4 separate regions of the Homo sapiens genome follow, and regions 2, 3 and 4 are each reported to be linked to region 1. Evidence: microRNA targets listed by miRTarBase, many of them from high-throughput screens and not tested one by one. Region 1 holds a microRNA gene; each other region holds the end of a gene's coding sequence. Distances are between the middles of the regions.
What was found. The annotated mature microRNA hsa-miR-432-5p reads UCUUGGAGUAGGUCAUUGGGUGG and lies in region 1 at 1,879-1,901, shown strand. An mRNA with a match to its seed (bases 2 to 7 or 8) in the 3' UTR can be bound and repressed. Matches are read on the target gene's strand: a 7mer-m8 pairs with bases 2 to 8, a 7mer-A1 pairs with bases 2 to 7 and ends in A, and an 8mer does both.

Region 1 (4,150 bases):
AGCATGTCCTTTAGGATGAAGTGAATCACGTTCTGAGGTATGATAGGGTCTGGGGAGAGCGCAAACGGCTGGTAGCTCTTCATCTCTTCAAGCTCCAAACCAAACGCTGCTTTCCACACATCTTCGGTGCGGTGCCCGTTCACGCTTTCCTCCACAATGGTCCCACGCAGCTCCAGTTTTGTGAACCACTCGGCTCCGTGTAACTGGTCAAACAGTTCCGGAATCATCTGTATGTAGTCCTGTCTGTTGGTCAGCATGTCCTGCAGGTCCCAGTATTCCTCCTGTAGCCTGGCTCTTTCTTGCATCCTGGCACCCACAGGTTCCCAAGGCGCGGTGGAGGGACACTCGTAAAAGGTCTCGCTGTGATCACTGTCTCCAGCCTGCTGAAGCTCAGAGGGCTCTGATTCAGAAAGATCATCGGATCCGTCTGAGCTTGGCTGGTCGGAAGTCTCATCATCTGCTTCCTTCGGGTTAAACACGTCGGCCAGGTCTGAGTATGGGTGTGGCAGTCCGGGTAGCAGGCTCATGCCGTGCCTCTCTAGGGCAATGCATGGCGGGGGCGGGCGGAAGCAGTTCTTCAGGCAGTAGGGAGAGTGGAAGGTGCAGCGGCCTTTGATCCAGTCGACTTCGGGGGCGTGGACTCGGAGCCAGCGGATGCCTAGGACCACAGAGAAGTTCGGTGAAGGTACGATGTCAAATTCGATGGACTCCTGGTGGTTCTGGTGGATACACACCAGGGGCTCCGTGTAGAGCCAGACAGGCTCGTTGCCAATCAGCGAGCCGTCCACGGATTGGACCGGCTGTGGGTACGGCTTCTCGTAGAGCTCGACGTAGTGCTCTTGGGCGAACTTCTCATCCATGAAGTTGCCGTCAGCTCCCGAATCCACCAGGGCCTGGACCGCGACGCTGTGGTAGGGGTTCACTCTCACCATGAGCAGCAGGAAGAGGTGGGCGCGATTGATGTCCGGATGGACTTCGCTGGGCAACCAGCTGCTGACCATCCACCTCTCTGGAGCAGGTGAGTCGATCCAGGTCAGGTTCCGGGGGCGGGCCTCGGGGGGCAGCCTGAGCATAGCTCTTCTCTCTGCCAGCTTCTCTTCTATTTGCAGGATGAGCACAATCAGACTGTCTAGGGAATCCGGCTGAGGGACCCGGAATAGATAGTGCCTGATCTCCTCGTTGAGCCCCTGGCACAAGTGGGCCTGCAGGACTTCATCTGGCCAGCCCAAGATGGGTACCAGGCTCTGGAACTCATCGATGTACTCAGTGGCAGAGCGGCCGCCCTGCCTGATGGTGAACATGGCCTCTTCTGCCACACGCAGTGCCTGGCGGTACTCAAACACTTCGGACATGGCCTCCAGGAAGGCTGGGAAGTCTCCGATCAGGGGGCTGTTTTCCTGCAGTAGAGCTTTGGCCCATTCTAATGCCAAGCCGGACAGGTGATTGATGACATAGCCAACTCTCAGACGGTCGTTATAGAACATTCTTGGGTAGCTCTGTAAGGTCAGTTGGCAGAGTACGATGAACTCGTGGAATTCTCTGCGATCGCCAGAGAAGTGCTTTGGGGCGGGCAGTTGGCCTGCATTGATCCCTTTGATCAAGATCTCTTCTGCTACTCTCTGTTGCTCTTTGAGGTCTTGCATTCGGAAGTACAGCGAGATGATGGACCTCACCATGGCCATAAGTTCTGCGGTTGAGTGCTCGGTCTGGTTTTGCTCTTGAGGAGTCTCCTCCCTTCCCGATTCCTTCAGGTCAGTGTGAGCCTCTTGTTCTTCTCGGGCTCCCGATGGGTTGACTGATGCTTCTTTCATCCTATCAGATGCTCCACTGAGTGGATCCCCCCTTGCCTGGTGTGAACCGTTGCATGACTCCTCCAGGTCTTGGAGTAGGTCATTGGGTGGATCCTCTATTTCCTTACGTGGGCCACTGGATGGCTCCTCCATGTCTTGGAGTAGATCAGTGGGCAGCTCTTCCATTTCCTGGAGTGGGCCACTGGGGGGCTCCTTCTTTTCCTGGGCTGGGCCGCTGGCTGGCCCTGCCTCTCCCCGCACTCCACTGCCCGACGTCGCCTCGGTGGTGTTGGATGAGCCCTCGGAGGACTCCATTTGTTTTGATGATGGATTCTTATGCTCCATCATCGTCTCAAATGAGTCTTCAGAGGGTTCTATCATTTCGTCGGATGGAAAGGAGTGTATTCTGAAGATTGGTAAGGTTGTGATGGCGTCCAGTCAGTAGCTGGGACCGTGGAGATCAGAACCTGGTGGTGGAAGGGGAGTGTGGGGAGTAAAGGCAGTAGTTTAGGATCTTGTGAAGTGGCAGTATCAGGGTCTCAAGGACAAATCAGATGCCCAACTAATCAGAGCAGAGAGAAATGGGGGAAAGCCTTCTTGTATCGAGCCAGCCTCTTTGGCTGGTCACTTGGGGTGCCCCCAGGGAGGGAAGATCTGTCAACCCCTGACCTGCCTCCCAGGCTTATTCAGTCTGCCTGTCCTGTCCTTTTCCTCCATAGATGTGAGAAATTCACAGCCCATAAATTCTGTGGCTGGGAGCAGCCACCGTGGCAGGCGGGTACCTGGCAGGGTGCACAGGCTGCTCCATTCCCCCCTGGCACATGCACCTGGTCAATCCTCTTTTCCTGCTTTGGTCACCTGAGAATCACAGAGGTCACATCTCAGCACCATCCAAAGCCACCCCTGGCAGGCTCAGGGCTCTGGAGCAAGCCCAGCCACCTTGGTTGTGGAGCGGGAATCTCTAGCAAAGATGCCTACTGTTTCACCAGTGCAGTGGAAGAGGAGAAAATGGGCACTTGGCCACTGTCCCGTCAGTTGGGTCAGCAGCCCAAAATAGTTCTTATTTCCTTCCCCATGTTCAAAATAGAAATTTCAGGGGGTGTGTACAGGTCTGGGTTTTTTTTTTTTTTTTCCATAAATTTTATAACATACCTACTATGTGCTGGATAACTGCATATTTGTTACTTGATTCTAACTCAGACTTTTGGCCAATTTCTCTTTCTCGATTTGGTCTCCTTCCAATGCTATGTTCTCCCGACCTCTGAGCTGTTGAGGAGATCTTCAAATAATCTCCTTCTCTTCCTACAATCTCCACTCTCCCAGGACTGCCCTCTTTGTGAGGCTTCTGGAACTTCACACATCTGGCCTCAATTTCACCAGTGCAAGCATATCTGCACGCCTCTCCAATCTTATCCTCCCAGGTCCCCTTCTTAACGCCAGTGGGTCTGGTCTCCTCTTTCTAGCAAATATCTTTTTCTCTCTGTTGCTGGTTGAGCCCTCCCAACAGACATGTATCTGGCAGAGTTGGGACATTGAGTGTGGGGGTTGGGGGGAACATGTGACATCTTTGGAATCTGACGGTCCCAGAGTGGATTTTTGGAAATCTAGTGTTGGGTGGTTTTAGTGGGCTGAGACAGAATTGAAAGGGAATGTCTTGGTTGGGGTTATTTGCACATTTCTTCTCTGCTGGGGCAGAGCAAATTAAGCTTTGATTATCTGATAGATTAACTGTAAAGCTACTGCTCTTTATAAATTTAACACCTTTTGTTACTTCTGAGTTTTCTTCTAAGCCACTGGACCCATCCGTAAAAAAAAAAAAAAAAACTGCGTTCCCCCTTACGTGAAACTCATTGGCTAAAATCCAAGCTTTCCAACAGGATACAAAATTCAGATCTGCTGTTTCTCAAAATTAAGTACACCCTTGTTAGCATGACACTTAAATTTGATCATGCAGTCTCTCTGATTAAAGCCTTCCACTGTTTATTTACTGTCTGCAATATTAAATCCAAACCTTCTAGCGTAAACATATCTGACATGTAAACTCACCAAAACTATTCTCTGGTTAAAATGTAAGGGCCTTAATATAATATAAAATTCTTATTTTGTCATTCCTCAAGGTAGAGATCACATTTTTTTAAAGCACAGTATACAAATCAGCATGGTATAGGAATTATAAGAATCATCATCATCATCATCATGATGTACATAGCACATTGCAGAAATTAACTCATTTCCTCTCCATAAAAGTCCTCTGAGATATGCATTATTACTGTAAAATTCCAAACCTCTAATATAAAATTCTAATTGAAATACAAATAAATAATTCTAATTGAAATACAAAAACTAAGTAATTCATCTGC
Region 2 (4,000 bases), 70 Mb from region 1:
TCCTGTATCATGGAAAAACTGCAGGAAATAGACAAGAGAAAACCTGAAAACACTGCTGAGCTTGAGATCTTCCAAGAAGGCATAAAGGTCTTAGAAACACTGGTTACTGTTGCTGAAGAACACCATCGTAAGTGTCAGCACTAAATTCATACTCAGTCTCAACAAAAATCAGAATTTTACTGTTATTTAAATTGCAAAACAATCAGTCACATTATATCTGTATTTCACATTCATTGAAAGGTGTTATGTTAATCCCAAGTATTGATATTATTTAGTATTAATTTAGAAGAGATTGGACGAATTGTTTTCTTTAGTGGGGAAAAATGTATACAGATCAAGTGCATTTGCAGGCTTTTGTTAGAAACATTTATGTCACTGAACTTATATTATTTGTTTACTTTCTAGGCGCTCAGCTGGTGGCCTGTCTTTTGCCCATCCTCATTTCCTTCCTTTTGGATGAAAATTCTCTGGGATCAGCAACTTCCATAATGAGAAATTTACATGACTTTGCTCTACAAAATCTCATGCAAATTGGACCTCAGTATTCATCTGTTTTTAAAAGTTTAGTGGCTTCTTCTCCAGCCCTAAAAGCCCGCCTTGAGGCTGCTATAAAGGGCAATCAGGAAAGTGTCAAAGTCAAGATACCAACATCTAAATATACTAAGAGTCCTGGAAAAAACTCAAGCATCCAATTAAAGACCAGTTTCCTCTGATTTTTTTTTTGGAATAGTAAGCACCTTAATATAATAAATACTTGATCATTGCCTTTGGTGACAAAAGGGACATTGTAGACACAAGTGCCCTTAGAGGTCTAGTTGATTGTTTTACCTTAAATAGCTGTGACTCTTCAAAGTAACAGCATACTTAACATTTTTGTGTGTGTGCGTGGGGTTTGTGTTTTGTTTTGTTTTGTTTTTCTATTTAAAAAGACAATGGAGCTAACTTGCCAGGAATTTTAAGAAAGTGCTAAAGAACTAAACTTACTAAACAATCCACTGCTTTAAAAATGAAATGAATTTCTTCTAACAGTCCATACATATGTGGTATACTTAATACTGTGACAGATATAAATATGACTCTAGTGTAAATTATCTGCACTAATATTGTATCCCAATTGCTGATTTAAAATTCTGCTTTGGCCCGGCACAGTGGCTCATCCCTGTAATTCCAGCACTTTGGAAGGCCAAGGCGGGCGGATCACGAAGTCGGGAGTTTGAGACCAGCCTGACCAACATGGTGAAACCCCGTCTCTACTAAAAATACAAAAATTAGCCGGGTGTGGTGGCACACACCTGTAATCCCAGCTACTCAGGAGGCCGAGGCAGGAAAATCGCTTGAACCTGGCAGGCAGAGGTTGCAGTGAGCCAAGATTGTGCCACTGCACTCCAGCCTGGGCGACAGAGTGAGACTCCATCTAAAAAAAAAAAAAAAAAATTCTGCCTTATTCAGTAATTGTATTAAACTTTCTCTGATTTCTCCAAGAAGATAAAATGATTGGAGAGCTATTTAGGAAACCTGGTCTAGGATTATCCAGTATACAATAGTACAAATTACTTACAGCCTTACAGTGCAACATAAGATTTGGTGTCTATATCATGGTTTTCCACCATCTTTTGGTTTAGTTTATATTGGGTTCAGAAATTGAGTCTTACTCATTTTAAATAGAATAAGCCATTTCCACTATTTTTCAAATGGATTTTTCTGTTTACCTCTGTTCTTACCAATTTTGTTCATTTTCATTTGTGGCAAACATTTGTATCAATGAGTTTTAACCTAGGTTCATATCTACATTGTATTTAGATCAACTATGGGTTTATATAAATGCCAAATTTAGTACAACAAATTTAGGTCATCAGGTGAATACAAGTATTTTTTTTAACAGGAAACATTTTATTATAGAAAAAAGATTAATGATAAAGTCATATTGGTTGAAAAATATTTTTTAACTGTGTTCATGATTGTTGATTCTCCTTCTACTTCAGTGTTATACTGTGTGAATCAAGCACTGTGTCAAAACAGAGCATTTCCCTCTTAAAAATTACAAACCGAAGTGATAGAAGCATGTCAGAATTGAGAAGACATTTTGAAGCAAGAACAATGTGATGTACCTATTTTATTATGTTTGTATATAAATACTATTGTAAATTGTTCAGAGTGAAAACATTTGACAAACTCTAACACTACAATCATTTTTTCTAAATTACATAAATAAAGCTAATTTTCATTATCATTCTTGTATTTTTAAATTATTTTACCAACAAAAGATGGCAGGTTGGTTTCTCTCACATGGATTCCAGAAAATCAGCCTTTTTTCTCAGAAGAGCCCTTTCTTTGGAGCATTATTTGTGATGGTTTAGATTCTCTGTCTCTTCCTAAGTGTCTCTAGGCATTGAGTGTATATTTATTGTTCCCTTTACCTAAAATGTCCTTTTCTCTCCTGTCTTCTGTCTGGTGATTGCCCACTCCTTTTAGGCCTGGCTTAAATATCACCTTTCCTTGGTAACTCTCCTTAACACTTCTTAACTTCCTCTTACACCAATTTAACTGCTTCCTCATCTGTGTTTCCATAGTGCTTAATACATTCTTGTATGCATAAAAAATCACATTGCAATTTGTGGTTTGTTTGTTTGTTTAAGCCAAGGTCTTGTTCTGTTGCCCAGGCTGGAATGCAATGGTGTGAACACAGCTCAGTGCAGCCTTGACCTACTATGCTCAAGTGATCCTCCTGCCTCAGCCCCCCAAGTAGCAGGAACTACAGATGTGTGTCTCCAAGCCTAATTTAAAAATTTTTTTTGTAGATATGAGGTCTCACTCATATGCTGCCCAGTCTAGTCTCAAACTCCTGAGCTCAAGCTGTCCTCCCACCTTGGCCTCCCAAAGTGCTAGGATTATAGGTGTGAGCCACCACACCCAGCTCACATTGCATTTTAATATTATCTTGTCTCCCTCTTAGACTGTACCACTTCATAGGGAGAAATTATGTCTTCTGTAACTTGGCTCACTTAATAGCTATTGAATTGCACTGGTACAGGATGGATGAGGACTCATAACTTCTTTGCCAAGGCAAATGCTGAACTAGGTTGTTCTCAGGATGTAACTAATTAATTTGACTTAGGGATTTTAAAAAAGTGTTTTGTCTGTTTTAGCTGTTTCATTTAGTTTGCTCTTACACATTAAGATTTCTACTCAGTACTCTAGTATCCTGAATTATTTGGATTAAAGGTGCTTATATGAACGTCAGTAATTAGGAAAAAAACCTTTTATGTCCAGTGTAATGGAATTAGGAAATTTGAGCTACTCTTAAATGTATCTCCTTAAATCGCCTTATTTAATACAACCCTGAACTATTAAATGTATCTTTACTGATAATGAAATTAAGGCTTAACAGCTGGGGTTTGAACTCATCTTTCTGATCCCAAGCATTCATGCTGGAGACAGGAAAACTGGCAATCCCGATTCCATCAAGGTATAGCTTTTCTCCTCTTTCAGCGCTCCGGGCTCCCTCAGGAGCCTTCCTCACTCTTTGTTGAAGATATTTTCAATTACATTTCTCCAAATTACAACTAAAAAGTCTTTCGCTAATAGAATAGGGGAAAAAGTTTTTTTTTAATTATTTTCTACAGCAGTTTCTTTTTTTTTTTTTTTTTTTTTTGAGATGGAGTTTCGCTCTTGTTGCCCAGGCTGGAGTGCAATGGCCTCTGCTTCCCAGGTTCAAGTGATTCTACTGCCTCAGCCTTCCCAAGTAGCCGGGATTATAGGCATGTGCCACCACATCTGGCTAATTTTGTATTTTTAGGGGAGACGGGGTTTGTCCATGTTGGTCAGACTGGTCTTGAACTCCTGACCTCAGGTGATCCGCCCGCCTCGGCCTCCCAAAGTGCTGGGATTACAGGCATGAGCCACTGTACCTGGCCTGCCCTCTACAGTTTCTATGGGAATAGATTATATGCTTAGATATTAATGAGTCTAGTTGTAATAAAGCAGTTGCATATTAATTAGC
Region 3 (4,000 bases), not on the chromosome of region 1:
ACGGCACGCGCGGCGCCGCCGCCGAGGGCGCTAAGAGCGCGGAGCCGCCTCCCGAGCAGCCGCCGCCGCCGCCGCCGCCCGCGCCCCCCAAGAAGCTGCTGTCGCCTGAGGAACCGGCGGTGAGCGAGCTAGAGTCGGTCAAGGAGAATAACTGTGCTTCCAACTGCCACCTGGACGGGGAGGCGGCCAAAAAGCTGATGGGCGAGGAGGCCCTGGCGGGGGGCGACAAGTCAGACCCGAACCTTAATAACCCCGCGGACGAGGACCATGCCTATGCTCTGCGGATGCTGCCCAAGACCGGCTGCGTGATCCAGCCTGTGCCAAAACCCGCGGAGAAGGCTGCCATGGCACCGTGCATCATCTCCTCGCCCATGCTCAGCGCCGGGCCTGAGGACCTGGAGCCGCCGCTCAAAAGGAGGTGCCTCCGAATTAGAAATCAGAATAAGTAAAAGGTTTGTATGTCCGCCGGGCGCTCCTCCACACCAGCCAGTGCACCTCTCCTTACTTCTGACAAGGCAGAGGGGAGAGTTGTAATTATAGTCATGATTTTACCGTGTGTGTTTTATATTGCACACGGTGTGGTCACGCTATCAACATTCTGAGCCAGCAGCTCTGATGCTGAGTTGTTCAGTAGCATCATTCCCATTTTACAGCCGAGGAAACTGAGCCACAGCATGTGAGTGCCAAGCCCCGGGTCACTTACTTGAGGGGAGAGCTCAGTCTCCAACCTGTCATGAAATATTGTCTCTCCAATTACACTTTATTATCATGCTCATCTCCGTAAATCACCCTATTGGAGAAGAGGAGGATGGGGGGAGGGAGAAGAGATTAACTTGGGACACCTAAATGTGTGATCATGAGGTTGCAGGGCAGTGGTGAAATGTCCAGTGAACCCATGAGCTGGGCCACCTACTAAATAGAGCTGGTTGCCTCATTGGCAGAATGTCACCAAATTTTCTTGATAAGGACGGGATTCCATTTGTAAAGTGAGAATGAAACCTAACTCTTACATGCATATGTCAACTGAACCCAGGCCACTGAGTCCTATTTGCCTGGCAGGGTGTCTTTCCTGTTCATGGGGTCTCCTTCCTGCAGTTTGGCACCAAGCAGCATCCCCCAGGGTAGGCCTCAAGCGTCACTGACCAGCTTTGCTCTCTCCCCCTTTTGGGGCCCAGCGGCTTAGCTGATGAGTTGCTCACCTTTGCAGGTAATGGGAGGCTTCGATAGGGAAGAGGGTGGCATTGCTAAAGTGAGTGACACTGCACATCTCTGACCTCATAGACAGACTCCTGCCTAATGCCAAGTGAGCCGCCAAGAGTGAGTTAAATTTTTCAATATTGGGAAGGGGAACTAACATGTGTGCCTGTCATAGGCAGAGGTGGCCTCATTTGCTCCTCCTGCCAATTCTGGTGGAATAGGCATCATCTGTATCTCACCAAGGAGGCAGATGAAGCTTAGATACTGTGCCCGAAGCAGAGCTGGTACGTGGGGAAGCCGTATTCAACTCAGGCCTGTTGGACACAGCCCAAGCTCTCCCGTCTATCCAAGCGGGCATCAAACAGGCCAAAATTCAGTTGAGTTTATCAACTTCTTATGGAGAGGAAGAGGAGAGATGAGCATTTATTGAGCACCTAACTTGTACACTGCTCCTTCCAGGGACTAGGGAGATACAAAGGTAAATGATGGCGTGCCCCCATCTGGTGGGAGTGCAAACTCCAGGAGGAAGGAAGCGGGGGCCAGGAGAGTGGATCTCGTAAGATGAATAATTGCTCACATTTGTATGCAGGCTGTCTTCTAAGTGTTTTTCGGTAGTATTTATTTGGATCTGGGTCCATAGGACAATTATCGTCTTCATTTTATTGATGAGGAAACCAAGACAGAGACATTAAAGTAACTTGCCCAAGATTTTACCAAATTAGCAGAGTTGAGATGCAAATCCAGGCTGTCTGACTCCAGAGCTGCATTTTTTAAAAAACCACTGTAGGAGAATAGGCTAATTAGTTTCTTTATTACCCTACATACTAAAATTGTTTTACCCACCTCAGTGGGTAAAACAACCCTCAGTTGTCATAGGGGAAAGTTTCTTAAAAAACAAACAAAAACTGAGTCTACCTCCTAACTTCTCTAAGTGTTCAGACAGTTGAATTCTTGTTTCTGCAGCACCAACAAGCCTAAATTACCAACCCATTACTCCACAGTGGGAAATACAAACGTGGAGCACAGCACTTGCTGTGGTGTGTCCAGTCCCTGGTCTCTAAGTTGGGCCCCTAGCATAGCCAGGAGATTGCTTGGGAAGCACAGACCAGAGCAAGGAGACTTGTCAGTTGAGGAAGAAAGGTTTCTCAGCCACCATCGTTCGAGGTTTCCTTTTCCTCTGATGGCTTTGCCAGTAGAGGAAGAATACTAAAAATGAGTTCACCATTCCTTCTTGATTTTACATCTACAAGTTCTGCTGCCTGAAGACAGATGGCCTCAGCCTTCTCACAGTCACCTCAATTGAAAATGCCCCTGATTTCTTCACGAGAGTAATTTAATCTGGTTGACAAAGCTGTGAGTAATGGGAAGATGTGTGACAAAAAAAGTGACGGCCTTCAGAAAGTCAGAAAGCATTGGGAATTGTCACTTTAAACACATTCTAATATCACTCATTCAGGTGAGGCTGAAAAGAAGAAGAATGGGAGGGTGAGAGATTTTACTATTATACCATCATTGGAGTGAGAAGTGACCAGGTCAAGAATAGTGACACTAACATATGAGTAGCTTGGGACCAAAATAACATAAAAACATAAAATACACGATGGCTATTTGGATGATATATGTTTCTGAATAAAGAATCAGTCTTGTATGTGGACCAGAATCATTAAAAATATCAACCTGGCTCCAGCCAATTTCAGAAGATGTGGTGATGAAATTGCCCACTACCTCTTGAGATTGAAGAGTTCTTTCAATGATGGGTCCCCCAAGAAATTACAGCTTTTCTTTAAAATCAGAAATACAGAAATACTCAGGCTTTGTCAGCTACGAAAGGGTGACAAGGCAAGTGATTTAAGATGGGGGAAAAACCACCTCTCCTCCACTAAATCACATTTCCTCTTGCCCTCAGAAGTTCCGTGTCACCTCACAGCACAGTCTCAACCTGCCACAATTTACTCACATTCTCTGGCCCTTCCTGGTTTGTTTTATTTATTTATTTAGTTATTTATTATTTTTTGAGACAGAGTCTCAATCTGTCACCCAGGCTGGAGCGCAGTGGCGCGACCTTGGCTCACTGCAACCTCGGCTGCCTGGGTTCAAGTGATTCTCCTGCCTCAGCCTCCTGAGTAGCTGGGGTTATAGCCACGCGCCACGATGCCCAGCTAATCTTTGTATTTTTAGTAGAGACAGGGTTTTGCCATGTTGGCCAGGCTGGTCTCGAACTCCTGACCTCAGGTGATCCACCCACCTCGGCCTCCCAAAGTGCTGGGATTACAGGTGTGAGCCAACGTGCCCAGGCCCCTTCCTGTTTTTTTGTGCACATGTGGTGCTGTTTTTCTTCTATGCCTTCAGAAACCCAGACCGTTCATATGGTTGGGGAAATTGGAAGTGTATCCACTAAATAAAGGACCGTATGGCTTTTGTGCCCTGATGCTGAACACTGGTGACAAGTTAAAAGCCAAAGTGGAAAGTGTTACAAACCAAAAGCAAAACTCAGGCTGAGATGTGGTGGGTGAGGTGCAGGTGAATGATTTCTCCGTGTGCTTGTTGGTGATTCATTATATATTATTTCTCATATATATTCATTATATATTATATAGGATAATCTGTCAATAACTTCAGTCAGCTCTTCATTCTTCTCACTATGTCTGCCTTTTTCATACTGTAGTACTATTTTATTATTTTTATTTTATTTTATTTATTATTTTTTTGAGACAGTCTTGGTCTGTTGCCCAGGCTGGAGTGCAGTGGCACAATCTGGGCTCACTGCAACCTCTGCCTCCGGGGTTGAAGCAATTCTCCTGCC
Region 4 (4,000 bases), not on the chromosome of region 1:
ATAGTATCAGCAACATTCTAGATATTTTACACATAATGAAAATTATCTATGAAGCATAATTATGCTTGAGAAATACAAGGCAGCATTCTCCAAATCATTTCAGTATTTCAACATCCAAGGTAAAATAATTACAGGACACTTCGTTAAACTTGTTTTAAAAAAGGTTTATTTGTTACAAAAAGTTAAATACTAAAGCTAAAAACATATAAATTCAGGTCAGGCTATATTAAAATACACACATACCCTTCTTTGCAAAATTATTAAAGGTTGAATTAAACAGATGCTTTAAATAAAATAAAGTACTCTTTGAGGACATTTTTGTCAGATTAACTATAACAGTGTAGTGTAGTTTTTAAAATTGCAGTTGAAAAGTTTAGCTGTCTTGGAAGTCAAATTTATCCAATTGTTCAGACTTCTGTTACTACTTAATATGAAGCCACCATGCTGGCTTGGACAGAATTAATTTCATTCATGTTATGGAGAATTCTATATTACAAATCTGGTCCCCTATAATATGAACAGTGAGCAGTCAGAAATATACAAAGGGTTAAATAGGGTAAAGACTTTGGCCAAGAAAGGAAAGGCCTTAGTTCTACCATAGAGTATCTTCTCTAATTAAAATGACTGGGAAATATATGGAAGCAGAAACCAGCACAAAGCACTACCCATCTAGAAATAATCTTTCAGTTAAAAAACAACTCTCAAAACCAGCACTCATTTCTCTAAGATAGGTTATAAGTATTTTACGATTTCTTGTTATATTAAATTGAGTTAAAGGTACTGACAAGTCAATATGCAAATGGGTTTAAACACTAATTTGATTTCTCTTCTGACTAGCTCTGGAGAGCTGTGACATCTGGATGTTGGTGTCACTCACACAGGTAGGTGGTAGAGAACTTTCATAACAAAACTACACACTCCACACCAACTGGGCACCAGCTTCCAAACCCAACTCCACTTCAGGTCAAACAACCTTAAGGAACTACCTATAGTCTAGTTAAACATTAAATAGTATTTTCAAGAAAATACCTTTTTTTGCTTTGCAACTTAATATTTTTCAATTTCCTAGATTAAAAGTTACTGATTTTGAACTTTAAATGCTGTAATTCATATAGGGGTGCGAATATGCTCATGAAAAACAAAAGGCTATTATTCCATTTTAGAAGTCTTAAATGTGAATGAATTTCTAGAAATCTACCACAGTATCTGTTTTTTACAATGCTAATCTTTGTCAAATGGGATTTGCCAGTGGTTGATTAACTCAAGTGATTAAAATACAAAAGACATAAAATCGATTCCAGTAATCATCAATGATACAGCCTAATTAAAATCAGCCCAATTAAAATATTTCCTGGAATATATCTATAGGGAATTTTTAGTGTTTCACTTTGGTTTTTTTTTTTTTTTTGAGATGGAGTTTCGCTCTTGTCACCCAGGCTGGAGTGCAGTGGTGCGATCTCGGCTCACTGCAACTTCCACCTCCCAGGTTCAAGCGATTTTCCTGCCTCAGCTTCCTGAGTAGCTGGGATTACAGGTGTGCGCCACCACATCTGGCTAATTTTGTATTTTTAGTAGAGACGGGGTTTCACTGTTTTGGCCAGGCTGGTTTCGAACTCATGACCTCAAGTTATCCACTTGCCTCAGCCTCCCAAAATGCTGGGATTACAGGCCTGAGCCACCATGCCTGACCTAATGTTTTACTTTGGCAGTGTTGGTATACATACAAGGGCTAACGGTATGGGGTCCCAATATTATACTATAAAACCATTTAATCAAATTTTTGAAAAGTCGGAAAAACTGTGTGTATTCTAAAGTCACTGGAAATTAAAAGAAAAATATATTCCAGTAGTGACTTACAGATGAAAATGATGCTGACAATAGACAGTAATCTGTTTTTCCATGTCTAGGTTTGTGAGTTTCTGATATAATTATTTCTCTATACATGTGATATGAAAGAAAGAAACTATCAGTCTGTCCTCTATCCCAGTCCATTTTCCCTCTATGTAACAAGTCTTTGACTTACATCCTTTCTTTGAACTTACTGTGTAATATTAGAGCACAAGATTCATGCTACTCTTTATCAAATAATCTTGCAGTCCTTGAAAAGAATTCAAAGAATTTAAGCCACTGACGTCCTAATCTTGGTAAATAACACTAAAAACAAATTCTTGAGCCAACTTCGGTAGCAAATTCTCTACAGAGCATCTTTCTCTGTGAACATCTTTATACATGTGTATTAAAGTTAGGCTGGTTAGTCACTCTTACCAACCTCCTGGTCTTACAGAATGATCAAGAAAGTATTTGTTCATCTATGATAGAGCAAGAACTGTGACTGTTTTAAAGCTAAGACAACACAACACATTTCTCCCTTGCCAGCCAAGGTGGCAGTGGAGGCCCTGGGTGGTCCAGACCTCCCCAAAGGCGGGAATCTTCACTATGTTCTCTTCCCTCCGGTGAGCCTCCTTCTCTTCCCTTTATATCAGTGCCTTTTTCTGCTTTCAGAGAGAAAGGTGTTTGAGCAAGAAAACATAGGATATTTCCCACCACGAAACAGACATAATTTTGAGGGCTCAGCACAAAATGAAATCATGGGGCCCTTCTTCAAACATTATTAAGAATTTCCGCTATAGCAGAGCCTTGAACCAAGTGTGGGGTCCTTCTAAGTGTGGGCCCTGTGCTGCTACACAAGTTACACGCTAAGAAAGCCAGCCCTGCCTAGGTTCCCCGCCTACTCAGATTGCCAAAAGGAGATAAAGTGGCTCAATTGGGTTGTCCAGATGAAAAGCAGGTATTTTTTTTATGATGATTCAAACACTGTCATCAATTGAGAACTAAGTGGCATTTCACTTTCCAAATGGCCGGCAAATTTCTATTCCTAAAATCTCATGTTGGACTGATTGGTTTTCCCCTAGATTTCTCATTATACAAATGGTTATGCTGGGTCTTTAAATGCCCCTTATTTTAATAGAGCAATTAATCAGACATGATTAAATTTCTGTATTAATCCTACGTAATTTTTTTTTTTTAATCTAAGCATTTCTTAACTGAGAGGGGTCTAAATATCACTAAAGCAACAGGACATCTTTAAGGGAAAACAGCTGCAAAACAGCTTTGCATTCTAGAGTGAAAGCCTTAGTTTTAGCCTATGGTATATTTTGTTCCCTTTTAAGACCACAGTGGTAGTTTTTTTCCAAAGAGAACTAATAAACATATTAAGCTATATGGTAATTTTTCTAACACCCACATTGGTTTCGGTCAGAAGAATTTTACTGGAACCTGGAGGTATCCCATTCTTCATAATAATAAAAAAGAAATGTAGTGTATAAAAGCTCCAGGTTACATTACTAAGCAACGACATTTCCGGGAGTGAATATACTTCCTGTATTCCGCAAGCTGCTTCAAGTACATATTCGACGGCCATCTGTGCTTTTCAACAAAACTGCGTTCTTCCACTGAAGTTTTAAGAAAAAGACTGTTAACCGAATATGTTTTATTATGGATCAATTAAGATATCAGCTATTGATTTCCTCTTTAATAGATGAGATCCAGCTCTGTGATACATCTCCTACCATTCCCACAAGTTTTCCCAAATAATTTACTACCATTTTGGTTAAATTAGTATCAGGATTTAAGTTATTATGTGACTTACAATTATATATATCTTGTCCACTACTTCGAGTAGTATTTCATTATTTTCCTTTTCTTTTTTTTTTTTTTTTGAGATGGAGTCTCATTCTGTCGCCCAGGCTGGAGTGCAGTGGCGTGATCTCAGCTCACTGCAACCTCTGCCTCCCCAGTTCAAGCAATTCTCCTGCCTCAGCCTCCCGAGTAGTTGGGACTACAGGCGTGTGACACCACGCCCAGCTAATTTTTTGTATTTTTAGTAGAGACGGGGTTTTACCTTGTTGGCCAGGATGGTCTCGATCTCCTGACCTCGTGATCTGCCTGCCTTGGACTCCCAAAGTGCTAGGATTACAGGCATGAGCCACCACGCCTGGCT

Region 2: the mRNA of HEATR5A is a reported target of hsa-miR-432-5p. Seed matches in the 3' UTR shown: 8mer at 1,476-1,483.
Region 3: miRTarBase lists SOBP as a target of hsa-miR-432-5p. The part of its 3' UTR that is shown has no 7-base or 8-base seed match.
Region 4: the mRNA of RHOBTB3 is a reported target of hsa-miR-432-5p. Seed matches in the 3' UTR shown: 7mer-A1 at 381-387.

Annotation. Positions count from the first base shown.
Region 1 is chr14:100,882,618-100,886,767 of GRCh38, forward strand. It overlaps MIR432 (microRNA 432), which reads left to right and starts at 1,866; the gene lies at 1,866-1,959. RTL1 (retrotransposon Gag like 1) reads right to left here. Exons shown (of 4, transcript NM_001134888.3): 4 at 1-2,257. The coding sequence starts at 2,171. It overlaps MIR127 (microRNA 127), which reads left to right and starts at 362; the gene lies at 362-458. MIR136 (microRNA 136) reads left to right here and starts at 2,085; the gene lies at 2,085-2,166. RefSeq lists a silencer at 3,075-3,369.
Region 2 is chr14:31,290,018-31,294,017 of GRCh38, reverse strand. It overlaps HEATR5A (HEAT repeat containing 5A), which reads left to right. Exons shown (of 36, transcript NM_015473.4): 35 at 1-127; 36 at 406-2,230. The coding sequence ends at 713. Among named protein-coding and RNA genes, the nearest start is that of HECTD1, 84 kb to the right of the region's middle.
Region 3 is chr6:107,635,018-107,639,017 of GRCh38, forward strand. SOBP (sine oculis binding protein homolog) reads left to right here. Exons shown (of 7, transcript NM_018013.4): 6 at 1-452. The coding sequence ends at 449. Among named protein-coding and RNA genes, the nearest start is that of SOBP, 150 kb to the left of the region's middle.
Region 4 is chr5:95,792,511-95,796,510 of GRCh38, reverse strand. RHOBTB3 (Rho related BTB domain containing 3) reads right to left here. Exons shown (of 12, transcript NM_014899.4): 12 at 150-3,452. The coding sequence ends at 3,337. Among named protein-coding and RNA genes, the nearest start is that of GLRX, 28 kb to the left of the region's middle.